Homo sapiens: one gene and its partners. The protein of the gene in region 1 interacts with the protein of each later gene in a biochemical or structural test. Each region holds a gene or a part of one and is shown on either strand. Other genes may lie near its edges. The genes, in order: CDYL, LIG1 and REST.

The links.
Region 2: the proteins of CDYL (region 1) and LIG1 interact in a test that uses a peptide from one of them, tested with the Homo sapiens proteins (one study listed by BioGRID).
Region 3: the proteins of CDYL (region 1) and REST form a complex in vitro, tested with the Homo sapiens proteins (one study listed by BioGRID).

The regions. Positions count from the first base shown.
Region 1 is NC_000006.12:4,771,650-4,780,976, reverse strand, and holds the start of CDYL (chromodomain Y-like protein), read right to left. Parts: upstream 4,574-9,327; 5' UTR 4,194-4,573; coding exon 4,170-4,193; intron 1-4,169.
Region 2 is NC_000019.10:48,113,726-48,119,344, reverse strand, and holds the end of LIG1 (DNA ligase 1), read left to right. Parts: intron 1-154; coding exon 155-208; intron 209-1,563; coding exon 1,564-1,707; intron 1,708-3,379; coding exon 3,380-3,472; intron 3,473-3,612; coding exon 3,613-3,696; 3' UTR 3,697-3,900; downstream 3,901-5,619.
Region 3 is NC_000004.12:56,923,926-56,933,144, reverse strand, and holds part of REST (RE1-silencing transcription factor), read right to left. Parts: intron 3,305-9,219; coding exon 993-3,304; 3' UTR 1-992. UniProt on the Homo sapiens protein: Transcriptional repressor which binds neuron-restrictive silencer element (NRSE) and represses neuronal gene transcription in non-neuronal cells.

The DNA of each region.
Region 1 (9,327 bases):
TTATTAAGACATACAAATAAAGAGAATACTTATTCCATTTTACTACAGCATACGTTCCTTATTCAGTCCCACGTGAACAAAGTCTCATGGTGGTTACTTGACTGCTAAATAAATTAAGGTCCTCTTGACCTCACAGCTTTCTCTGGTGATATAATCAGTTTATAGAATACTTTCAAATCCTAAATCTTGAGGAAGGGAAAACAGGTTTGGTTTCATGGTTTGAGAGTTGGATGGGTTTTTTTTCCTCTTTAAAAATGGAAAACGTTTTGTAGAATTGCTTTTACACGCTAATGCCATTTAAGCCTCAATTATTTGGTTATCATCCTCCTATTTTACTGATGAGAAAGTTTAGGATAGTTAAGACAAGTACAAGATGAGTTACTTAACAAGCTTCTAAGAACAAGGGAAGGCCGGGTGCAGTGACTCATGCCTGTAATCCCAGCACTTTGGGAGGCCAAGGTGGGCGGATCACTTGAGACCAGGAGTTTGAGACCAGCCTGGCCCACAAGGTGAAACCCTGTCTCTACTAAAAATACAAAACATTAGCCGGGGCGGGGGCGGGGGCGGGGGGGGGGGGGCGTAGGCGGGGGTGGTGCACGTCTGTAATCCCAGCCACTCAGGAGGCTGAGGCATGAGAATAGCTTTGAACCCGGGAGGCAGAGGTTGTAGTGAGCTGACAACATGAAGCCACTGCACATCAGCCTGGGAGATAGAGCAAGACTCTTGAAAAAAAAAAAGAGAAAGAAAGAAAGGAAAGGAAGGAGGAAAGGAGGGAGGATTACCACCCAGATCTTCCAGCTCTAAGTCTAGAGCTGGGATGAAAGTTAGAAATACCGTCTAACTTCCATACATCCCCAACCCTTGAGTAAACCCAGATTCCTAAACAGACTATGACAGTTGATCACCTACAGCAGGGCTTAACAAACAACAACCTACAGGGCAAAGCCAGCCCACTGCCTATTTTTGTGGAACCTACAAGTTAGGAATCATTTTTACATTTGTAAGTGATTGGAAAAAAAACACAAATGTGTATTTCATGACACATAAAATGATATGAAATATACTAAGTGAATTTTACTATCCATAAGCAGTTTGAGACACAGCGCACATTCATATAGGAGTCTACGACTGCTTTTGCACTACATGAGGTGAGCTGAGTGGTTGCAACAAAGACCATAATATAACCCACAAGTCTAAAATATGTATTATCTGGCCCTTTACATTAGAAGCGTGATGTAAAGGACGCTTGTCTTTTTGTGAAAACTATGAAGTTCTAACCTACGCCGCATCAAAAATCCGTTTTTCCTCAATCCTAGCAGCTGGAAAAGTAGGGAGTAAATCTATTCCATCCTTCAACTAATAGTAACTCTTCAAATTTTGCAAGGTTCATGCTCTACCCATCTTTTCCAGGATCTGTTCCTTTATTTTTTGTTCACAAAGCCTAGTTTCAATAGCCATTTAAACATTTACTAAAGACCTATTACTACATACCAGGTTCCATGCTAAGTATTGGAGACATTTCTTTTAGGCGAGAAAACCAAGGCTCAGCAGTTGGGTAACTCACCCAAGTTCCCAGTTACTGCAGACCTGTCCTCCTACCAGACCATGTGAGTTCAAAGAAGCAAGACTTCACATTTCCTCCTGTCAATATATCCCTCTAGATTTGTGGAGCCTGAGGCCAAACAGAAAACTTCTATTTCAGTTTAGGCAGAACTGGACAAAACAAGGCAACTAACAACCCTTGACTTGGCCACAAAACATCATCTTAGTGTCTTTCCCAGCCTTGTCAGACTATCGCGTTCATTTACAATTGCGTATCACTTCTGCCCTACAGATAATACTGCCTTTATGAAAACAATACAACTCTATACCTTTAGAAACAAAACCAGGTTTCAGGGAGGCATTTTAAGCCAGTTACCATACAATCATCATCACTTACTGGGTGCTTGCCATGGGAATTTTAGGGTGGGCTTTACATATGTTCTCATGTAAACTTCATAGCTCTATAAGGGAAACACTGATCCCAATTTCACAGATGAGGAAACTGAGCTTTCAAGGCTAATTTACCCAAGGTGATAGAGTTGGAAGTCACTAACTGGGTTGTCTGACTCCAAATCTAGGCTCTCAACTGCCATGCAAAACTTTCAATGTCAACTTTCAATGGTAACATAGTCACAGTGTTGCCTACAAGTAAAAGAAAAGTTACAAATTTTGCCTTGAAAGATACTGACCACTACATATTTACTACACATACTTAAATTTATCACCTGAACTATACTTCTATAATACCTTTTTTTCCAAAACTAAAATAAAACTCAGAATCAAAAGTTCAATTGTGCAGGTGTATCATTTATTTGCAATATACTTACTTCCTCCCCAACAGACACTCCTTGAAAGCATGAACCATTCTCACACCTCAGTATTTCCCCATGAAACCTCCATATGGCAAGCATTCAATAAACGTTAAATGAACACAAACTTAGTACAAAATGTTACTCATTAATAACTTCTGTTAGGAACAGAAACCTGAAGATATAGAATAAGCACAGAAGGAACTAAACTTAGTTCATAATATACTAATGGGAAATGTGCTGTCTTCAGAATCATTCTTACACACATAGGATACAACTTACGTATAAGGTGCTACTCTCATCCACTGATGGAACTGATTATGTAATCATACTCATAAAAGCAAATGCCAAGAGTGAACACTCATGACTAAACAACCAAAGAATGATCTAATGTAGAAACTAAAATCCCCCATACCCTCATGCTATGTACTTCCCCCTGTACAGACTTCACCTGGAAGACCTCAACCTCAAACATCCTAGCCTCCATTTCTGTGTCTTCCAGACACACAACACTTTCCTTCCTAGAAGGAAAGCTCCTGAGAACAGGGAGATTTTTCTTCTTTTACATCCCCAAATGACCTAAAATAGTATCCTGAATACAGCGGGGCACAGCTAATGTGTAAAATGGTTGAAAAGAATGGAACATTTTCAGTACCAGCTAAGGTATACTGACCACATACAATGTAAGGAGAAGCAACAACCTTACCCTTAATTCTACAGATGGCAGCTTCCTCCTGAGAACTTCTGCAAACACTTGCTCTTAAAAAGCAACAAAAAAGTTGCTAGAAGACTAACATCGCAGACAACAAAGCTCTATTCTATGCCAACAGCAATAATACGCCCATAAGAGAAGACAACTGAAAGGATCCCTGGGGCCACAGGGCTCTACTTGTTACAGATGCTTCCTTAAGTCCCTCAACACCCAGGTCCCTAAACGCATCATAAAGGTGAGTCTAGAGAGTCTTCGCAAGTTTTAAGTCTCTTAGGAACTTATTTATAAATACATGTGAAACAAGAGAATCATTTATCCAGAAGAACAGAAAGCCTTCCAAACTTCTGTACTCCCAGGAAGTCTACTTTGAAATACGTCAAAAGAAGTTACATGGAGACATACAAAACATGTCTAAAGATCCAAATTGGTAACTCTCAAACTTGAAGCTGGTTTAAACCCATCGACCAGAACTTACAGTTCTGGCTATGCCCTTCTCATTTGCAACGCTGCGGCGCAAATGAATGACGGTGTATCAGCGTTAAATTTAAATTTCCTGGCTCTGGCCACAATGCTAACCTAATTAAAGCATGTGGTCAACGTTTAGCATTTTCGGTGCGAGATTTTGCATCGCTTTGGCGAACAGCAAAGTCGAAAGCGTTTGCACCGGTCTTCTCCCCGCCACCCCCCGACCAGGGGCAAAACCCTCTCCCAAATGCTTTATCAAATGATCCAGAAACCCCCCCACACCCCACCCCCCGTACCGCCCACGGTCCCCGCCGAGCGGCAACGGAGGCACCACTTCCACGACCCACGCCAAGAGCACTTTGAGCTCAGTCCGAGCAAGTCACTTGTGTCAGCACCACTTCCCCACGGCTGGGACCCCCCCCCCCACCCCACGCCCGGCAACTTCAGGACCCCCCGGCCGGGGCCCCTCGGAACGGAGGCTCGGGCTCCCCTCACACACATTTCCCGTCCAGCAAACTGCGGCCGCGGCGGGGGAGGGGACGCGGCGGGCGCGGGCGGCGAGCGGGGCCGTCGGGCGGCGCGGCCGGGCCGGGAGGGGCGGCGGGCGGGGGGCGGCCCGAGGCCGGGGGGAGGGGAGGTACCTCGTACAGCTCCTCGGAAGCCATGGTGGGCGGCGGAGTTGCGGGCGGGAGGGGCAGGGTCGGGGCGGGCGCCGGCGCCGGGCGGCCGACACTTTGTTTCAGTTGGGTCCTGCGTGGCCTGCGCTTCCTGCTCCCGCGGCCGGCCGGGCGCTGGGCACGGACGAGCCTCTTGCACTCCGCGGCCAGTGCGGGCCGGCGGCGCGGCGGGGTTGTGCGCAGGAGCAGCTACGCAACGCGCCCTGGGCGCCCCGCGCTCACTCCCCGGCGGGCCGGCTCGCGCTCGGGCTCATCGCGCCCCGCCGCGGGGCCGGGCGGGCTGGGGCGGGCGCGGCGGCGTGCGGGCGGCGCGGCCGGATCGCGGCTCCCCTCTCCGGTGTAGTGCAGAAAGCTTCCTACTTGCGACCAAAAAACCTGCCCCGGCTACTGAGCATGCCCAGTGCGGCCGCCCGGCCCTGCGGAGCCGCGCTCCCGCGCTCCGGGTTTTCGGGCCGCCCGCGCGGGAGGGGCGGGGCGGCGGCGGGGCGGGGCAGCCGAGGGGAGCAGTGGGCTCCGCTCGGGGCCGAGGCGGGCGGCCGGCGGGGCCGGGAGCGAGCCGGCAGGAAGGGGAGGAGCGGGGCAGTCGGGGGCGGGGCCGCGAGCGCGGGGGGCGGGGTGGTGGGCGGGGCTCCGACTTCCCCAGTCCCGCTTGCGGGGTCGGCCTGGCCCGCGGCACCGCCCCCCAGCCCGCCTCGACGTGGGCGCTTGCGGCCCGGCCCAGGGCAGGCGGGACCTGGACCTCGAGGTTCGAGGCGCAGCGCGGTTGTGCACACCAGGACGGGCAGCGACGGACCCGAGATGGGGCAGGGAACCATGCGAGCGAGCCGGCCCGCGTCTGGAGCCCACCGCCCCGACGGCAGCGGCCGCGCCGTCTACCGCGCGCCTCCCTCCAGGAGGAGCCCAAGAGGCGGCCTCCGTGCGCCCGCCCGTCCGGGGCCGGGCCAGCCCGCGAAGGGCCGGCGGCGTGGCCAGGTGGAGCACCCACCCCACCCCATGCCCGCCCCACCGGCCGCCGCCAAGACCCGGAGCCCGGGCCGCGCGCCCCGCGGGGTGGCCCGGCGAGCTCCGGCTGGCACGCTGGCTCCGCGGCAGGCCGGGGGTGGGATCCGGGGGGCGGGAGCCGGGCGCGGCGGAGGGCGGCGCGAGGGCGCGGCTGCCTCCGCTCTGCCCGCAGCTCCCCCCACGCCAGGCCTCTGGGTTCCTCTCGGAGCGTCCGCCTCCTCCGAAGCGCAGCTGGGAAGGGACCGAGTCTGGATTCCAGGGAGGTCCGGGTTCTAATCGAACGAGGCTGTCAATGGTGGTTCCTTTCGCGGAACGGTGTGGACTACACGACAGGCCCTCGCTCAGAACAGCGAGGGCTGGCCCGCGCTCCACTTCCCAGGGAAGATCTACTGCCAGGGCACACCTGCCGGGCCCTGGACGTGCCCCATCGGTGGCGAAAGAAGGGGCTTCCTGACCCAACTCCCCCAGACAGCCGCCAACTCCGATCACTCTGGCCGAGTATGCGGAACTTCCCCACGGGGCACTGCAGAGGCATTAGTTCACCCTCTCCCCCAGGCCCTGCATCGGGAAGCCCTCGCCAGTTCCTCCATGTCTCCCCGGGCATCCTTCGGGCCGCCTCACTCCTCCGTGCTCCATCTCGCTCCAGTTCCTAACCTACCTTGGAGCCACAAGGCTCCTCCCACCAGTTTTCTTCCTAAAGCCCTATTCGTTTGTGCCCCCCAACAGCGTTTCAACAACCACGGGGCGTCTCACAGACCCCGCGGTTTCCTGTCCTCCCCACGCCCAGGAACAAGCACCACGCCAACCCTTAAGTCACTGCGAGTCGAATCGCCGTTCCCCTTAAGCGGTGCTTCTACCTGCGGTCCCCACCGTTTGAAACAAACTCCCAGCTCAGGGATCACCTTAAAAGGATAGCCTTCCTGACTTCCAGGGCCAAATCGGTAACTCCCTCTTCAAGCGCTGCCTAAGCACTCACGCGTGCTCACTGCAGCACTCGTCTCTGTATTTTAAGGTTTGTCTACTCTTCACCCCACCCCAACTCCAAACGATGACCTTCAGTCAGACTTCATCTTCAAATTTGACGCTGGCCCCTAGCACCATTCTCTATACAGGAAATAAGGTGTTGTTCAATGAATGGAATTTCAGTGTCCACGAGAAAGCCCAATACCTACACATCCAATTCCCATTATCAAATGTTTGCACAAGAATCGCAAATTAAAGCCACCACTTCATCAACTGGTCAAGGCGCCTCAAGCTCTGCCTCTTTCCCTGATGGCCCAGCCAATTCCCTCTCCCTCCTCCAAACAGCGCCTCTTTCCTCTCACTTAGCATTTCCATTATATGCTGCATTTCATTGTTGCCTTCTCTCTAGGTTTACCAATTTATCAACAAAAGTTGTAAGTTCCTTGAAGGCAAGGACTAGGATTTTATACATTTGGGAAATCTCAAAGCATTGAGTGCACACTTCGGCAAGCGCTCAAATACTGGCAGGTGATAGTTTAAAATCCCTCAAGAAAAATCAACTGTAAAAAAGAGATCCTCAATAGGAAATAGATACATATAACATATAAGCCTATTATGCAATGATGGACCAATACAAATACAAGCACTTCTCGCCATGACCATTACTCCAATTATTGCCCCCTTCAGAACATCCACAAGCTTAGGCATTCACAAGGGGCTCCACCATGTGCGTAATGGTACTGTGGTCTCCAAGGAGTCTCCAAAACTGCCATTGTTGCCCAGGAGAGGGAAAGAAAGGAACATAGACATCCACAACAAACATATCCAGATATTGAGCTAGTAAGGCGATTTTCCCCATTGTGGAAACAAAAAGGGGAAGAATTATAGCCTCAAAAAGGCAACTCAAAAATGTCAATTTACATAGACCTTTGTCAATTTACGTAGCTTTTCAATCTTGACAATCTGGAATGTTTATGCTGCTATCCTTAGTCTACAACATTAAGAGTAACCACCAGTAGCCTCTAAAACAAAGCAGGAGTGAGCCATACTCCTAAGTTCCAACCACCTCTCCACTCTGACAGTTGGCTTCCACTGGCGAAGGAGATGGGTATCCACCTAGCGACTGAGAAATTGAGGAAGTTCTCAATTGTCCACTTTGTTCCTTTCATCTGCCCTCCATTTAAAACTCACTGATTTATGGAATGCTATTTTGCTTATATATACATATATATTTTAACCTCATTCGTTCAATTTGTCTTACTTTTAAGCAAACTTTGCTTTCCTCCGTCACTTTTTTATATAAACATTTTACCAGCACTCATAGCAGAAGTAAATATGCCCAAGATTATTTAATGACTTGGAATTTCCACCACCTTTTATGAAACAGTGAAGTTCTGTAGTTTCCATGACCACGTGTGTGGGTGCTATTATTTTCTCAGTGGCTTAAGAATAAAAGTGAAATCACATCCCCTAAGCACACCGGGAAGATTGCAGCAAAAATACATACAGCACAATACCATGCACTAGTAAGACATATGACTCTTAAAAGATTAGAGAAGTGGTCAACAAGAGAGACGATATACACACATGATTAAAAGACACGTCTACCAGCAATAAACGATTCTTACCTGACCTGCTCCCGTTGTTGTAGGCCAACATAATTCAATTCTCTCCTCCTCAAATCCAAACAATTGATCATCGATGGCAAGTTCTACCGACGATAAGACTCTTCAGATCAAGAATCACAGCCTCTTCCCATCTCGGGAGAATGATAACTAAAACCTGAAATCTGAGATCCTCCTCTTTTCCCAATCACCAGCCAAACCAGGCATGTCTTCCTTTCTCCCAAGAATCTGCATTTCATCTACATTTGAATCCAAAGGCATCCAAGGGGAGATGGGGGATGGGACAGAAAAAAACAAAAGAAGCCAAAATCTAGCTACTACTATTCTCAGAGCCAAAGGCGTTTTATGGTTGGGTAGCTGTGAAAAGCTACTGATAATGATTCCCTTCAACAGTTTTGTACCCCCAAAGCATATTCTATCCTGGTTACCTCCTCCATAACCCAAAATTTAATTGTGATTTTTATGAAGATGCGACCTAAGTTTGTTGGTTTTAAACCCACAGTGGCTGAAGGGAAATTAAATGCCGTTCTTGTCATAGAGTATCTACTCCAGAAAACTTGGTGGAATTTCCATCTCAATCACCCACTCAAAAGAAAGAACATTTTAAACCTGAGACCCAAAAGAAAGAAGCATACAGAACCATTTATAAGATTAATTCAGATGTTAGGGGCCTTGTCTGAACTGGGAGCCAACCAGTTCTTCCTTCCCTAAAAGCTTAGAGTGGATACCAGTACCTTTTTCTGGTCAACCAATAACAGCTGATTCCTTTTTTCAGTCACTGTTGCCTTCCCTGCCCAAACAGTCAGTTTCCCCATTTCGAGGGGCAGCCTCTCCCTGCCGCCCTCCATGTTGGTCCCAGGTAGGTACCATTTCTCTCTTTCATATAGAAGCCAGTAGCCAGCTGCCACACTGCTGCTCCTTGGCCAGATATCACTAGTTGTTTCATCTCTTTGCCCTCGTGATGCCAATTCTGAGACCTCTTAACATTTGATTTCACCAATTTCATCTTAGGCTGTGATACCATCACTGGCCGGAGCTCATCAATCTACAATTAAGGATCATTTGCTTTTTCAACTAGATTTAGTGTTTAAGTACGGTTCCTTTTTCTATTTAGCTAATGGTGTTCTACCAAGAGAATCCTTGTAATATGTACTTGTTGAACTTTTTTTGATTAAAGTAATGAGCAAGAGCAAGGAAGTTTTTCATTGATAATTTTATACATTACCCCATTTTTGGAAAGCAAAAAGACCAAAAATCATAAAGAGGAAATAGGCACAGGTATTCCCATAATTTTGGTTGACTTTATGCCAAGGCAGTAACTAACTCATTTTGGATCCCTGGAAAAAAACAGCAAGTACTGTTTAACTTTCCCTTGAATTATTGTGATGATTAATTGCATTTGTCTCTCAAGTCAGACCATCCCAGTATCGTCTTTACCTTTCCATTTCTAGACAGAGAGAGAAAGAGAGAGAGAGAACAACTAGGCAAGAGATGAGTGTGGACATTTTGACTGGTAAGGAAAATAGAAACAC
Region 2 (5,619 bases), on another chromosome or scaffold:
CCGCACCCCCAGCTCCCTACTTCCCTGGTTTTCTGTGGATACTGCGTAGACCAGAGTGGGGTGGGGGCCATGAGTGTACACAGCTTTAGATGGCAGGAGCAAGTGCTGGGCCTGTGGCTGGCTGAGCCTCTGACCTCCCGCTTCCTCCCTGCAGCTTGGAACTGGCTTCAGTGATGAGGAGCTGGAGGAGCATCACCAGAGCCTCAAGGTGAGCCATGGCGGCTGCGCCTCAGCCTCCACCCCTCTCCCCCCTGCCCCTGACAGCACAGTCCTTCCATGCAGGGCTCTTGGCTTCCACCATCTTGGGGCTCCAGGTGTGGGCAGGAGGGCAGCAGGCAGTGGAGCTGGCTTTGGAGTCCAGCATCTCCAGGTTCATGTCTCAGCACTGCCGGCTACTAGCTGGTGACCCTGCTCAAGCAGCCTCACCTCCCCAAGCCCTGTGCCTCATTCACACCAGGGGTTAGCCAAAGGACACAGCAGGTGCCATAGCTGCTCCTTGTGAAGTGCCTGTGAGCCCTGATCAATGTGAATGAATGTTGTCATGGTCACAGGCATTTCAGGCATGAGTGTCTGTCCTACATATTGGATCTGTATTAGTTTATTTTCATACTCATACTGCTATGAAGAAATAACCCAAGACTTGCCGGGCGTGGTGGCGCATGCCTGTGGTCCCAGCTACTTGGGAGGCTGAGGCAGAAGAATTGCTTGAACCCAGGATGCAGAGGTTGCAGTGAGCTGAAATCATGCCATTGCACTCCAGCCTGGGAAACAGAGTGAGACTCTGTCTCAAAAAAAAAAAAAAAAAAAAAAGGATCATTTATAAAGAGAGGTTTCCTGGACTCACAGTTCCACACGGCTGGGGAGGCCTCACAGTCATGGCAGAAGGCGAAAGAGGAGCAAAGGCACATCTTACATGGCGCCAGGCAAGAGAGCGTGTGCAGGGGAACTGCCCTTTATAAAGCCGTCAGATCTCGTGAGACTTCCTCACTATCACGAGAACAGCACGGGAAAAACCTGCCCCCATCGTTCAGTTACCTCCCACCAGGTCCCTCCACGACACATGGGGATTTTGGGAGCTATGATTCAAGACAAGATGTGGGTGGGGACACACGGACCCTGACACCATCTCTGTCCCACTCTTTGGTTCTCTCTCTCCATTGCCCTCTCTCTCTACATCTCTGTCCCTGTCCCACTGTGTCTCTGTCTCCTTCCTCCAGGTCTCTGGCCCTTTCTCTGCCTCTTTTTGTCTTTAATGTCCTGCCTCAGCCCCCAGGGCCTTTCATTTCTTTCCATCTCCCATTCCTCCCAACTCCCACCTTTCTCAACTTTTTACTTCAAGGGGGTCTTGTTTCTTTTCCCTTCTTTCACTTTCTGTTTCTCTTTCTATTTCTGTTTACTTCAAGGGGGTGTCTTGTTTCTTTTCCCTTATTTCACTTCCTATTTCTGTTTACTTCAAGGGGGTGCCTGTTTTTTTCCCTTCCTCCCTCTCCCCAGCCCTCCAACACTTGGCCTTGACTTTGAGATTCCAGACCCTCTGTTCCTCTCTTCCTCTGCTCACTGCAGGCGCTGGTGCTGCCCAGCCCACGCCCTTACGTGCGGATAGATGGCGCTGTGATTCCCGACCACTGGCTGGACCCCAGCGCTGTGTGGGAGGTGAAGTGCGCTGACCTCTCCCTCTCTCCCATCTACCCTGCTGCGCGGGGCCTGGTGAGTGGCAGAGGACCTGGCCGTGGCCCTGTGTGGGATTCTGGGCGGGCACACAGAGAGCAGAGTAGGGAGGGGACCTTGGCTCACATCTGCTCTTCCAGGTAAGGATCAGGAAGATGAGCTTGCATTTTATTTGAGTGTCAGATAAAAAGATCAAAACATTTTTTCTTTAAAAATGGGCCGGGCATGGGGGCTCGTGCCTGTAATCCCAGCACTTTGGGAGACCGAGGCAGGCAGATCACTTGAGGTCAGGAGTTCAAGGCCAGCCTGGCCAACATGGTGAAACCCCATCTCTACCAAAAATACAAAAATTAGCCATGTGTGATGGCGGGTGCCTGTAGTCCCAGCTACCCAGGAGGCTGAGGCAGGAGAATCGCTTGAACCTGGGAGGCGGAGGTTGCAGTGAGCCGAGATCACACCACTGTACTCCATCCTGGGTGACAAAGCAAGACTCTGTCTCAAAAAAAGAAAAGAAAATTCTTTTCTTAAATAAAAGAATTCCCAGGGCAAGCACAGTGGCTCATGCCTGTAATCCCAGCACTTTGGGAGGCCGAGGCAGGCAGATCACTTGAGGTCAGGAGTTCAAGACCAGCCTGACCAACACGGTGAAACCCCACCTCTACCAAAAAATAGAAAAATTAGCTGGGTATGGTGACCCGTGCCTGTAGAGACGGGGTTTCACCATGTTGACTAGGCTGGTCACAAACACCTGGCCTCAATCCGCCCACCTCGGCCTCCCAAAGTGCTGGGATTACAGGTGTGGGCCACCATGCCCAGCCAAGAACTTACATTTTTGATCTAATTTTTAAAAATGTTTTACCATGCTGCACGTTAGACAGCCAGGGACCCTTAGTAACAAGGCACAGGAGCCGGTGTGTATCCAGCCCTTGCTGTGCAGTGGGCACTGTGTGGTCATCAGCGTGTCACTCATAGACACTCATTTAATCCTCTCAAAATCCGTAAGACGTAGTGACACAAACATCTCCATTTTACGGTGAGGATGTAGAGCCCTAGAGAGCCTGAGTAACTGCCCCTGCATCACGCGGCTCCTGAGAGTTGGGAGCTGGGATTGGAATCCCACAGTCAGATTCTAGAACCCATACCCTGGCGCCGTAGTTCAGCCTCTCAGCCCGAATTACCGTCATTATCGTAACGGCTGTAGCAGGTGGCATTTTTTTTTTTTTTTTTTTGAGTTGGAGTCTCGCTCTGTCACCCAGGCTGGAGTACAGTGGCGCAATCTCAGCTCACTGCAAGCTCCCCACCTCCCGGATTCACGCCATTCTCCTGCCTCAGCTTCCTGAGTAGCTGGGACTACAGGCGCCCGCCACCACACCTGGCTAATTTCTTTTTGTATTTTTAGTAGAGGCGGGGTTTCACCGTGTTAGCCAGGATAGTCTCCATCTCCTGACCTCGTGATCCACCCGCCTCGGCCTCCCAAAGTGCTGGGATTACAGGGGTGAGCCACCGCACCCGGCCAACAGGCAGCATTTCTTGAGCACTTACTGTGCCCGGGTACTGTTCCAAGCACTTTGTCAACTTGTTTAATCCTTATGACAACCCATCGTTCGGCCCCGTCATGTGGATCAGGAAACAGTCCAGAGTGGAGGAGGGAGGAGACTGAGCAGGGGGTCGCTGGGGCTGGACCGCAGGAGTCTCCATCCCGCTTCCGCAGGTGGATAGTGACAAGGGCATCTCCCTTCGCTTCCCTCGGTTTATTCGAGTCCGTGAAGACAAGCAGCCGGAGCAGGCCACCACCAGTGCTCAGGTGAGGTCCTGGGAAGCAGGGGTGGGCCGCCCAGCTGCTTGGCCCTACCAGCTTTTTAGCGTGGTGGCCTCTCTGGAACCTTGTGGAGGTGGGAGCAGCCAGGGAGCTTCTGACCACCCCGTCCCACCCTCTCTCCGCAGGTGGCCTGTTTGTACCGGAAGCAAAGTCAGATTCAGAACCAACAAGGCGAGGACTCAGGCTCTGACCCTGAAGATACCTACTAAGCCCTCGCCCTCCTAGGGCCTGGGTACAGGGCATGAGTTGGACGGACCCCAGGGTTATTATTGCCTTTGCTTTTTAGCAAATCTGCTGTGGCAGGCTGTGGATTTTGAGAGTCAGGGGAGGGGTGTGTGTGTGAGGGGGTGGCTTACTCCGGAGTCTGGGATTCATCCCGTCATTTCTTTCAATAAATAATTATTGGATAGCTACTTTGTGACAGGGTCTGTGCTGGGCTCTGGGGGCAAAGCTGTCATGGGTGTCACCTGCATAGCATGTAGCCATGTAGCCATGGCCTAGGAACTGCCAGAGCCAGTGCCAGCCATGGAACTGCCTGCAGTGGTGGGCGTCTTCTCTATCTGCTCTGTGCAGTGTGACCGCCACTGGCCACCTGCAATGCCCGAGCCCTTGACAGGTGGCCAGCATGACAGAGGATGCGAATTTGTTTTGTTTTGTTTTGTTTTGATTTTGTTTTGAGACAGAGTCTCGCTCTGTTGCCCAGGCTGGAGTGCGATGATGAGATCTCAGCTCACTGCAACCTCCACCTTCCGGGTTCAAGTGATTCTCTTGCCTCAGCCTCCCATGTAGCTGGGATTACAGGAATGTGACACCACGCCTGGCTAATTTTTGTATTTTTAGTAGAGATGGGGTTTCGCCATGTTGGCCAGGCTGATCTTGAACTCTTGGCCTCAAGCGATCCACCCTCCTCAGCCCCCCTAAGTGCTGGGATTACAGGCGTGAGCCACCACACCCAGCCATACCAAATATTTTATTTAATTGTATTGGACAGCAGTAGTCTAAAATCTTTACATACATATATTTTTTAACTTGTTTAACCTTCCAGCCATCCCACAGGGAGGCACCATCGTGAGCCCTGTTAAGGAAGACAAATGCAGTGTCTTAAAATAACACAGATGTATTCCCTAAACAGTTTCGGAGGTCAGAAGTTCAAAATCAGTTTTACTGGGCTAACATCAAAGTGGTGGCAGGGCCGGTTCCTTCTGGGAGCTCCAGGAGAGAAACTGTGTCCTTTTTCCAGCTTCCAGAGGCCACCTGGTTCCTAGGCTCATGGCTTCTTCCTCCGTCCTCAAAGCCAGCAGCATCGCACCTGCAAATCTCTCTCCTGAGGTCATCAGGTCACGTCCTCTCCTCCATCAGATCTCTGTTTCTCTCTTCCAAGTACTCAAGTGGTTACATTTAGGGCCCCCTGGATGATCCAGGATAATCTCATTTCAGGATCCTAACTCAATCCCAAAGTCCCTTTAGTCACATAAGATCACACATTCACAGAGGCCAGGCACAGTGGCTCACGCCTTGGGGAGGACTTGGGGAGGCTGAGGTGGGAGGATCACTTGAAGCCAGGAGTTCAAGACTAGCTTGTCCAACACAGCCAGACTTCATCTCCTCTAATTTTATTAATAAAATTAATAAAAATGTAAAAGGGCCAGGCGCGGTGGCTCACGCATGTAATCCCAGCACTTTGGGAGGCTGAGGCAGGTGGATCACCTGAGGTCAGGAGTTCGAGACCAGCCTGGCCAACATGGCAAAACCCCGTCTCTACTAAAAATACAAAAATTAGCTGGGCATGGTGGCGCGTGCCTGTAATCCCAGCTACTAGTGGGGTGAGGCAGGAGGATCACTTGAATCTGGGAGACAGGTTGCAGTGACCCGAGATCGTGCCACTGCATTCCAGCCTGGGCGACAGAGCGAGACTCCATCTCAAAAAAAAAAAAAAAATAGGTCACATCAAAGGTTTCAGCGATTAAGACCTGGATATCTATGGGGGCTGTTATTATTGCAGCCACCCCACATGGGATGATATGTTAGAGGAAAACCATCGGGAAATGGTCAGACAAGGCAAGCAGGATGCCTGGAACACCCACCCAGCCCTGGGCACCACGGGGCTGGCTTGGGGAAAACGGCTGCACGCG
Region 3 (9,219 bases), on another chromosome or scaffold:
TGCAAAATCAAAACTGATAGCTGTGAATTTACTACATCCATTCGAAATAAATAAGTTATATGAAATACAGATTCTGGCATAGATATAAGATGTAAAAATCAAAATCAATAGATTGAACCTGCATATTTCATTTGCTCACAAACTTGCACACACTATTATTCTGCAAAATAGACAACTGCAGCAAAGAAAAAGAAAACTGCCCTTTTGCAAACAAGTCTAAAAGCATCCCTCCAAAGACGCCAAACAAAATAAACATGCATATATATATGTATAAAGTGTTACTGTTCAACACAAATGCTATTTCTAGGAAAAATTTAACTGCATAGGCAAAAAAACATAAACAGAAACCAAAAGAAAAAAAAAATGTGCAACATCTTAAGCCATTAAAGCACCAAAATAAAAAACACACCAAAATCACTGTTTTTATGACGATTAACATACACAAATAAAAAATATTGATCAAAACTCAGGAAGTAAATACTTGGACTGATAGACTGTCTATTGCTGGGGGAATTTTTCTTCAATTTAAATGTCTTCTCATCTCTAAAAAAAAAAATCTTAAAGTGCTAACTTTATATAAAGCAGGCAAATTCTTCAAGTAATTTGCTATTAAGTAAGCCAATTTTTTATAGATCTCAATAAAAAACGAAGAATAAACTAAAGTGAAACAGGAAGATAAGACATGGAGAAAAAAATGACAAGTTGTAGCTGGACAAAGCAATAAAATGCTGTTATACCATCTTAGCCTTCTAATTTCAATTAAACACATAAGCTAACAGATACCTGCTGGTTTAGTACACTCTCTTAGATTTACTAAAATTTACACAACAATCAACAGGTATACATAAAAAGTCCTAAGGAAAAGAATGCCACTTAAAAATCAACATCAGATACTAATTAAAGCAATCTTAAAAGGTTGTCTGCTATCATAAATGAATATAAAATGTAATATACCTTACAAACTAAGAACTGAAACCTTGTTCAAAGTTTCATTACTCCTGCCCTTGAGCTGCTTCTTCAAGATAGTACACATTAACCAAATGGCGATTGAGGTGTTTGCTGTAATCTTTTCCCTTTCTGAAAGAACGATCACAGAAGATACAAACAAAATCTCCCTTAGCCGCTTTGACTGCCAAGGCTTCCTTTGCATTTTTTCTGCTAGATTCTTGTGGAACTGGCCGAGCCCCATGCAATCCAGAATCATCACTACCCTCTGACATGTTGTCACTTAGGTCACTTCCTTCATGGCTGTGGATGCCTTCATCTTCATCAATTTCCTGAGACTCATTTGCTGCCATTGTAGCAGGAGGTGATGCCAGTGCAGTTTTGGACACTGCTTCACGTTCTTCTACTGCTGAAGGGGGAAGCATTGGTGAAACTGGTTCTTCAACTGTTGAATTTATACCAGTGAGATTCTCTCTTGTGTTCTGATCAGTGTCCATTTTCATTTCACAAACTATACTGTCAGTCTGATGTTTACCATTTAAAGTTTCACCCTCTGGCGTATTCAAGTTTTGTCCAGAGGATGAAATATGGGTAGATTCGTTGATATTAGCAGCAAGACCAGGTAGGCTCTCATCTGCCTCTTCTGCTCCTACTTTCTGAAGAGGGGCTTCTTTATTTCCTTCACCTGTGTTGAGTAATTTTTGGTCTCCTGATGCCTCTTCTCTTAAATTTTCCTTTGGCAGTGGTGGTGATGGTGGTGAGAGATCCTCTGTGCTTACACTTTCCTTTAGAAGCCAGCTATCTTTAACAGGCACTAAGCCAACTTCAATAAGGACTTGCTCCTTCCGTGCCCTTTCACTCTGCATGTTAGACTTTTCCTTTTTATCTTTTCGGAGAGGAGGCTTTTTGGAAATTGGCTCCATGTGAAGGGGAGGCTCTCTGGGAGGAGGTGGCTCCCTCTGAGCAGGCTCCTTCTGAACCACCCCCATGGGAGGAGACAACTCCATCTGAACAGGCTCCTTCTGGACCACCTCTATGGGAGGAGACAGCTCTATCTTAACAGGTTCCTTCTGGACCACCTCCATGGGAGGAGACAGCTCTATCTGAACAGGCTCCTTCTGGACCACCTCCATGGGAGGAGACAGCTCCATCTGAACAGGCTCCTTCTGGACCACCTGCATGGGAGCAGATTCTACCTGGGCAACCTCCATCTGAGCAGGTTCCATGGGAGCAGGCCCCATTTGGGCAACCTCCGTCTGAGCAGTCTCCATGGGAGGAGGCAGCTCCATGTGAGCAAGTACAATTTGGGCACCCACCATCTGAGCAGGCTCCACGGGAGGCAGCAGCTCCTTCTGAGCAGGCCCCTCCTGAACCACCTCCATCTGAACAGGCTCGTCAGGAGCAGGCCGTATCTGGGCACCCTCCATCTGAGCATGCTCCATGGGAGGTGGCGGCTCCACCTGAACGGGCCCCTTCTGAACCGCCTCTGTGGGAGCAGGCCCCATCTGAGGAGGGTCCATCTGAGCAGATCCCTTCTCAACAGGTTCCTTCTGAGGAGGCTTACTGCTTTTCTTACTTGATTTATTTTTCAGAGTTTTCTTCTTTGTACTTTTTTTCATGCAAGTATTTTGCTTTTTATTCTCCTCCACTTTGCTGTCACCCTTTGGCACTTCCTGACTATTATTTTTGGATTTGCTTTCTACCTTCTTTTTCTTTTTTGTTGAAGATTCCTCATCATTCACAGGACCATGTAAAGAATGGCTGTCAACTTCCAGCTTCCTTTTGCTTTTCTTAGTTTTACTGAATTTTTCTGAATTGCTTCCTGTATGCACATCCATCTCTTTCACCTCTGTTACTGATTTTCGAGTTCTGGTAGTCACCTGGATCACTGACACATTATTAGAAGGCTTTTTCTCTTTTGAGACATCTCTTTTCTCTGCTTTGACGGACTTTTCATTTTTCTTTCCAGCCACATCCCCTTTTATTTTTGTTTGTTCTATTTCTGTTTTTTCATTGGTAATATTATCAGGCAAGTCAGCCTCTCGTTTTTTGGTTTTCTTTAGTTTCACTTTTGAGACATCCATTGTTTTATTAGGACAAGTAGGATGCTTAGATTTGAAGTGATACTGTAGATTACACTTCTTGGAAGCTGCATAGTCACATACAGGGCAATTGAACTGCCGTGGGTTCACATGTAGCTCTACATGTTTTTTGAAGTTGCTTCTATCTGCTGTTTTGTAATCACAGTGTGGGCAATTAAGAGGTTTAGGCCCATTGTGAACCTGTCTTGCATGGCGGGTTACTTCATGTTGATTAGAGGCCACATAACTGCACTGATCACATTTAAATGGCTTCTCACCTGAAGGCAAATCAAAAGTATGAGAGAAGACATAGATTAAGACAAATTCAAGATTAAAATATAAAGAACTGTATATGTAAAGTAACAACAAAGACTATTTAAAATGCTGTATCATGCACCTTACATTTACCATATTTATTTGTATAACATTTCTCTATCCCTTGACATTGATTCTCAAAAGAGAGGAATAAATCTCAGTTAACCACAAGCTTCAAAAAAGTTCAAGTTAGAGTCCTCAAGCACTACTAAAGAACAGAGATTCTTTAAGACATACACATATTGGCAAAGTTCAATTGGGCTCTGGATGTTAATTTGGAGGAATATTATCAACTTAAAAATTTTTTTGTGTGTTTAGTTAAATGCCTAATGGAGTAGAAAATAAAATTCTGGCCAGGTGCAGTGGCTCACAACTATAACCTCAACTCTCTGGGAGGCCATGGCAGAAGGACTGCTTGAGCCCAGGAATTAGAGAACAACCTGAGCAAAATAAATCAAAACAAAATTAACTTTGGGAGGCCAAGGTGGGCGGATACCTTGAGGCCAGGAGTTTGAAACCAGCCTGGCCAACACGGTGAAACCCCATCTCTACTAAAAATACAAAAAAAATTAGCTGGGCGTGGTGTTGCACACCAGTAATCCCACCTATTCAGGAGGCTGAGACACGAGAATTGCTTTAACCCAGGAGGCAGAGGTTGCAGTGAGCTGAGATCGCACTACTTCACTCCAGCCTAGGTGACAGCGAGACTGTGTCTCAAAGAAAAAAAAAAAAAAAAAATTAGCCAGGCATAGTGGAGTGCACCTGTAGTCCTAGCTACTCGGGAGGCAAAGGCGGGAGGACCGCTTAAGCCCAGGAATTTGAAGTAGCAGTGAGTTGTGAATGTGCTACTGAACTCCAACCTGGGCAACAGAGCAAGGCCCTGTCTCAAAAATAAATCAATACATAAAATTCCCAGCCAGGTGCGGTAGCTCACACCTGTAAATCCCAGCACTTTGGGAGGCCAAGGCAGGTGGATCACCTGAGGTCAGGAGTTCAAGGCAAGCCTGGCCAACATAGTAAAACCCCATCTCTACTAAAAATATAAAAAAATTTAGCTGGGCGTGGTGTTGCATGCCAGTAATCCCACCTACTAGGGAGGCTGAGACACGAGAATTGCTTTAACTCAGGAGGCGGAGGTTGCAGTCAGCTGAGATCCCACCACTTCACTTCAGCCTGGGCGACAGTAAGACTTTGTCTCACAAAAAGAAAAAAAAAAAAAAATTAGCCAGGCATGGTGGAGTGCACCTGCAGTCCCAGCTACTTGGGAGGCAAAGGCGGGAGGACCACTTAAGCCCAGGAATCTGAAGTAGCATGGAGTTGTGAATGTGTTACTGTACTCCAACCTGGGCAACAGGGCAAGGCCCTGTCTCAAAAATACATCAATAAATAAAATTCCCAGCCAGGTGTGGTGGCTCACACCTGTAATCCCAGCACTTTGGGAGGCGAAGGCAGTGGATCACCTGAGGTCAGGAGTTCAAGACCAGCCTGGCCAACATGGTGAAACCCTGTTTCTACTAAAAATACAAAAAATTAGCCGGGTGTAGTGGCAGATGCCTGTAATCCCAGCTACTCAGGAGGCTGAAGAAGGAGAATTGCTTGGACCCAGAAGGCAAGATTACAGTGAGCCAAGATCGCACCACTGCACTACAGCCTGGGCGACAAGAGCGAAACTTCGTCTCAAAAATAAATAAAAATAAAATAAAATTCCCATACTCCCTCCACCCTAAATTTCTTATGGTAAATCTTGAGAAAAATATCTTTCACTCTGGGCGATACTCCCAGATCCTAGGTGCAAAAGTTTTGAAATTCTGCTTTAGTCTGAGCAAAGGCTTTTTCTTGAAATTTAATCCTTCTGTCCGTCATGGCAAGAGCTGAGTAAATTTTCACTTAGCAAACTTCCTGCGCTAGCATTGCTATTTTAAAGCAAAAATATAGGCCAAGGTAATTATTCAGAAAACTTTCTTGATTTTCCCCCCACCTTTCTATAAAATACATAAAGGAACTAGGTAATGAGAAGTGGCACACAAATAGATATGGTATGTAAAATAAGCAAAGTCACAATCACTGATACATAAAAAACCAGAACCCCCACCCCCAAATTAAAGGCATAAGAGTAATACATTCTACCTGAATACATACCCATCTAGATCACACTCTAGTAAATATTACCAAATGGTATCCATACCCCACTGGTCCAATGGAATGCATAGTAGAAAAACGGAAATTGACATTTATGAAAATTCATCTCAAACATTCTCAAATTCATATCAAATTGTACTAAAAATTTTCATAAAGCAAAACTCAGACATTAGGTAAAACCATGTAGATGTTAAGTTTTACATGATTAGAAAATGCCTGGTGATAAAATAATCACCTTATCCAGGTAGTCAAATTAGATATTCAGCTGACTGGACAATTCTTCTCCATGTTGGTCTACTAACAGATTTACAAATATGCAAGTTTCTACAACATGCTACATTACTCTATACCTGGTTCTCTCCAGTGAATGATTTAAATGGAGACAAACATTTTAACATACGTGGACATAGAATGTAGAAAGATAGGTAGCATAAGGCCTAAGAACTTCTAGATAGAGCTAGACCATCTGGGAGATAAAACATGAGCTCTGCAAGTTGCTCACTCTGAGACTTTGAGCAAAGTCCTGAAACCTCTCTAGAGTTCAATTTCTTTCTTTTTTTTTTTTCTTGAGATGGAGTTTCACTCTTGTTGCCCAGTCTGGAGTGCAATGGCGCGATCTCGGCTCACTGCAACCCCCGCCTCCCAGGTTCAAGCGATTCTCCTGCCTCACCTTCCCTAGTAGCTGGGATTACAGGCATGTGCCACTAAGCCTGGCTAATTTTGTATTTTTAGTAGAGACGGCATTTCTCCATGTTGATCAGGCTGGTCTCGAACTCCTGATCTCAGGTGATCCACCCTCCTCGGCCTCCCAAAGTGCTGGGATTACAGGCGTGAGCCACCGCGCCCGGCCTCAATTTCATCTATAAAATACTCTCTAAGTGTTGTGAGCTATAAATAATCTAATCTATGTAAAGTCCTTAACATGGAGCAGACAGCAAGAACTCAAAATGTGTTACCTATAATTGTTCACTTTTGGAACCAATTGGTAACTTTGAGTATGGATAAATAAAAGGGAAGACTCAGCAGGGCGCGGTGGGTCACGCCTGTAGTCCCAAAACTTTGGGAGGCATTTTTGTAAAAATATAAAATTTGGGGAGGCATTTTGTAAAAATACAAAAAAATTAGCTAGGCGTGGTGATGCGTGCCTACAGTCCCAGCTACTTGGGAGGCTGAGGCAGGAGAATCCCTTGAACCCGGGAGGCAGAGGGTGCAGTGAGCCGAGATCGCACTACTGCACTCCAGCCTGGGCAACAGAGCAAGACTCCATCTCAAAAAAATAAATAAATAAAAAAGGCTGGGCGCAGTGGCTCACGCCTGTAATCCCAGCACTTTGGGAAGCCGAGGCAGGCGAATCAAGAGGTCAGGAGTTGGAGACCAGGAGCCGGAGACCAGTCTGGCCAATATGGTGAAACCCCATCTCTACTAAAGATACAAAAACTTAGCCAGGCGTGGTGGTGCATGCCTGTAATCCCAGCTACTCGGGAGGCTGAGGCAGGAGAATCACTTGAACCCAGGAGGCGGAGGTTACAGTGAGCTGAAATCGTGCCATTGCACTCCAGCCTGGACGACAGGGTGAGACTCCATCTCAATCAATCGATCAATCAAGGGGAAGACTCTTACGTATCCTGTCTTTCCTACATCATGAGTAAATAGATAAGTGGAATTTATCTCTTCTCTTCATATTTACACACTAATAAAATAACTATAATTAAAATAGCACCATTTTATAACTCTGATGAATAAGGAGATCTATAGAGCAAGCATGCATCCATCAAGGTGCGAGGGTCCACCTAAGGAATGGTGAACGGAAAGGGAGGATGTAGAAATTTTCTGTTTAAAATTTGATGGCATGATTTATTTGCTCCGTTCTTTTTCTCCCGTAATTTTTACTTTATTGCCATGAAGTCTTGCTTATATTAAAATATATTCATCAAGATTTTCTAATTAGTACCTACCTGAATATTAACTTTTGCCCTGTACAAACAATTTTAAATTCTTTTTCCCAATTCTAGTAACAGGTTCTCTTCTTTATAAATCTACCAATTGTCTGTTTTATGCCTCCGAAATGAATTTATAGGTGTAAGCCAAGACAAAAGGGGAAAGAGTTCTGCAAGCTTTACACATACGTATCAAAAATATTCTTAGAAGAATGGCCAGGCATAGTGGTTCACACCCGTAATCCTAGCACTTTTGGGAGGATGAGGTGAGGAAGATTGCTTGAGCTAAGGAGGTTGAGACCAGTCTGGGCAACCTAGTGAGACCCTGTGTACAAAAAAATTTTTAAATTAGCCACATGTTATAGCACAAGCCTACAGTGCCACCTACTCCAGAGGCTGAGGTGGGAGGATCGTTTGAGCCTAGGAGGTTAAAGCCGCAGTGAAAAATACACAAATACAAGCCTCTCAATTTAAGTTTTTAAATTAATTCCCTTAAAAATAAAAACAAAACAAAACAAAAACCAAGAGAGAATGGCAAAGAAATTTTTTTTTTTTTTTTTTTTGAGACTGAGTCTCGCTCAGCTGCCCAGGCTGGAGTGCAATGGCGCAATCTCGGCTCACTGCAACCACCGTCTCCCGGGTTCAAGTGATTCTCCTGTCTCAGCCTCCGGAGTAGCTGGGATTACAGGCACCCGCCATCATGCCAGGCTAATTTTTGTATTTTAGCAGAGATGGGGTACCACCATGTTGGCCAGCCTGGTCTTGAACTTCTGACCTCCGATGATCCGCTCACCATGGTTTCCCAAAGCGCTAGGATTACAGGTGTGAACAACCGTGCATAGCCGGCAAAGAAAATTTTTAAGTAAAAAGTAATGGCGGCATACAATACATTACCAGCAATAAAATGAAGTCCAATAACGCAACATGGATAAATCTCAAGAACATTTTATAAAAGAATGTTCTAAAACTAGGTGCAGTGGCTCATGCCTGTACTCCTAGCACTTTGGTAGGGTGAGGCAAGTGGATCGCTTGAGCCCAGGAGTTCAAAACCAGCCTGGGCCAACATAGTAAGACTCCATCTCTACAAAAAAGAAAGAAAAAAAAAAAACAGGCATGGTAGCGCACACCTGTGGTCCCAGCTACTTGGGAGGTTAAGGTGGCAGGACTGCCTGAGCCCAAGAGGTTTAGACAGCTGTAACTGCACCCACTGCACTCCACCCTGAGTGACAGAGTGAGATCCCACCTCAAACAAACAAATTCTATAATGTTCTTTGGTAGGAGACAGAATATCATCCAGGGGAAAGACTGGGTGGAAAGGGCAAGGTGTTTCTGAGCAGAAATATTCCATCTCTTGTTCTTGAGTGATAATCAAATAGGTGAAAGCATAGTCACTGAGCTGTACACTCAAGACCTGTGCATTTTTAAATTTATAAATTATATCTCAATAAAATAGTTTTTAAAATTTATTCTACAAAGACTCTCAAGCCATCACAATATCTTTCAAACAATCCCAGCTATTTAAAAGTCCCTTGGCACCAACGTTATCAACAGAAAAAAATAAAACATGTCTGTCTGGGCACAGTGACTCAAACCTGTAATCCCAACACTTTGGGAGGCTGAGACAAGAGAACTGCTTGAGGCCAGGAGTTTGAGGCCAGCCTGGGCAACACAGCAAGACCCAGTCTCCATAGAAAGAAATAGGATATTGGCCGGGTGTGGTGGCTCACGCCTGTAATCCCAGCACTTTGGGAGGCTGAGGCGGGCAGATCATGAGGTCAGGAGATCAAGACTATCCTGGCTAA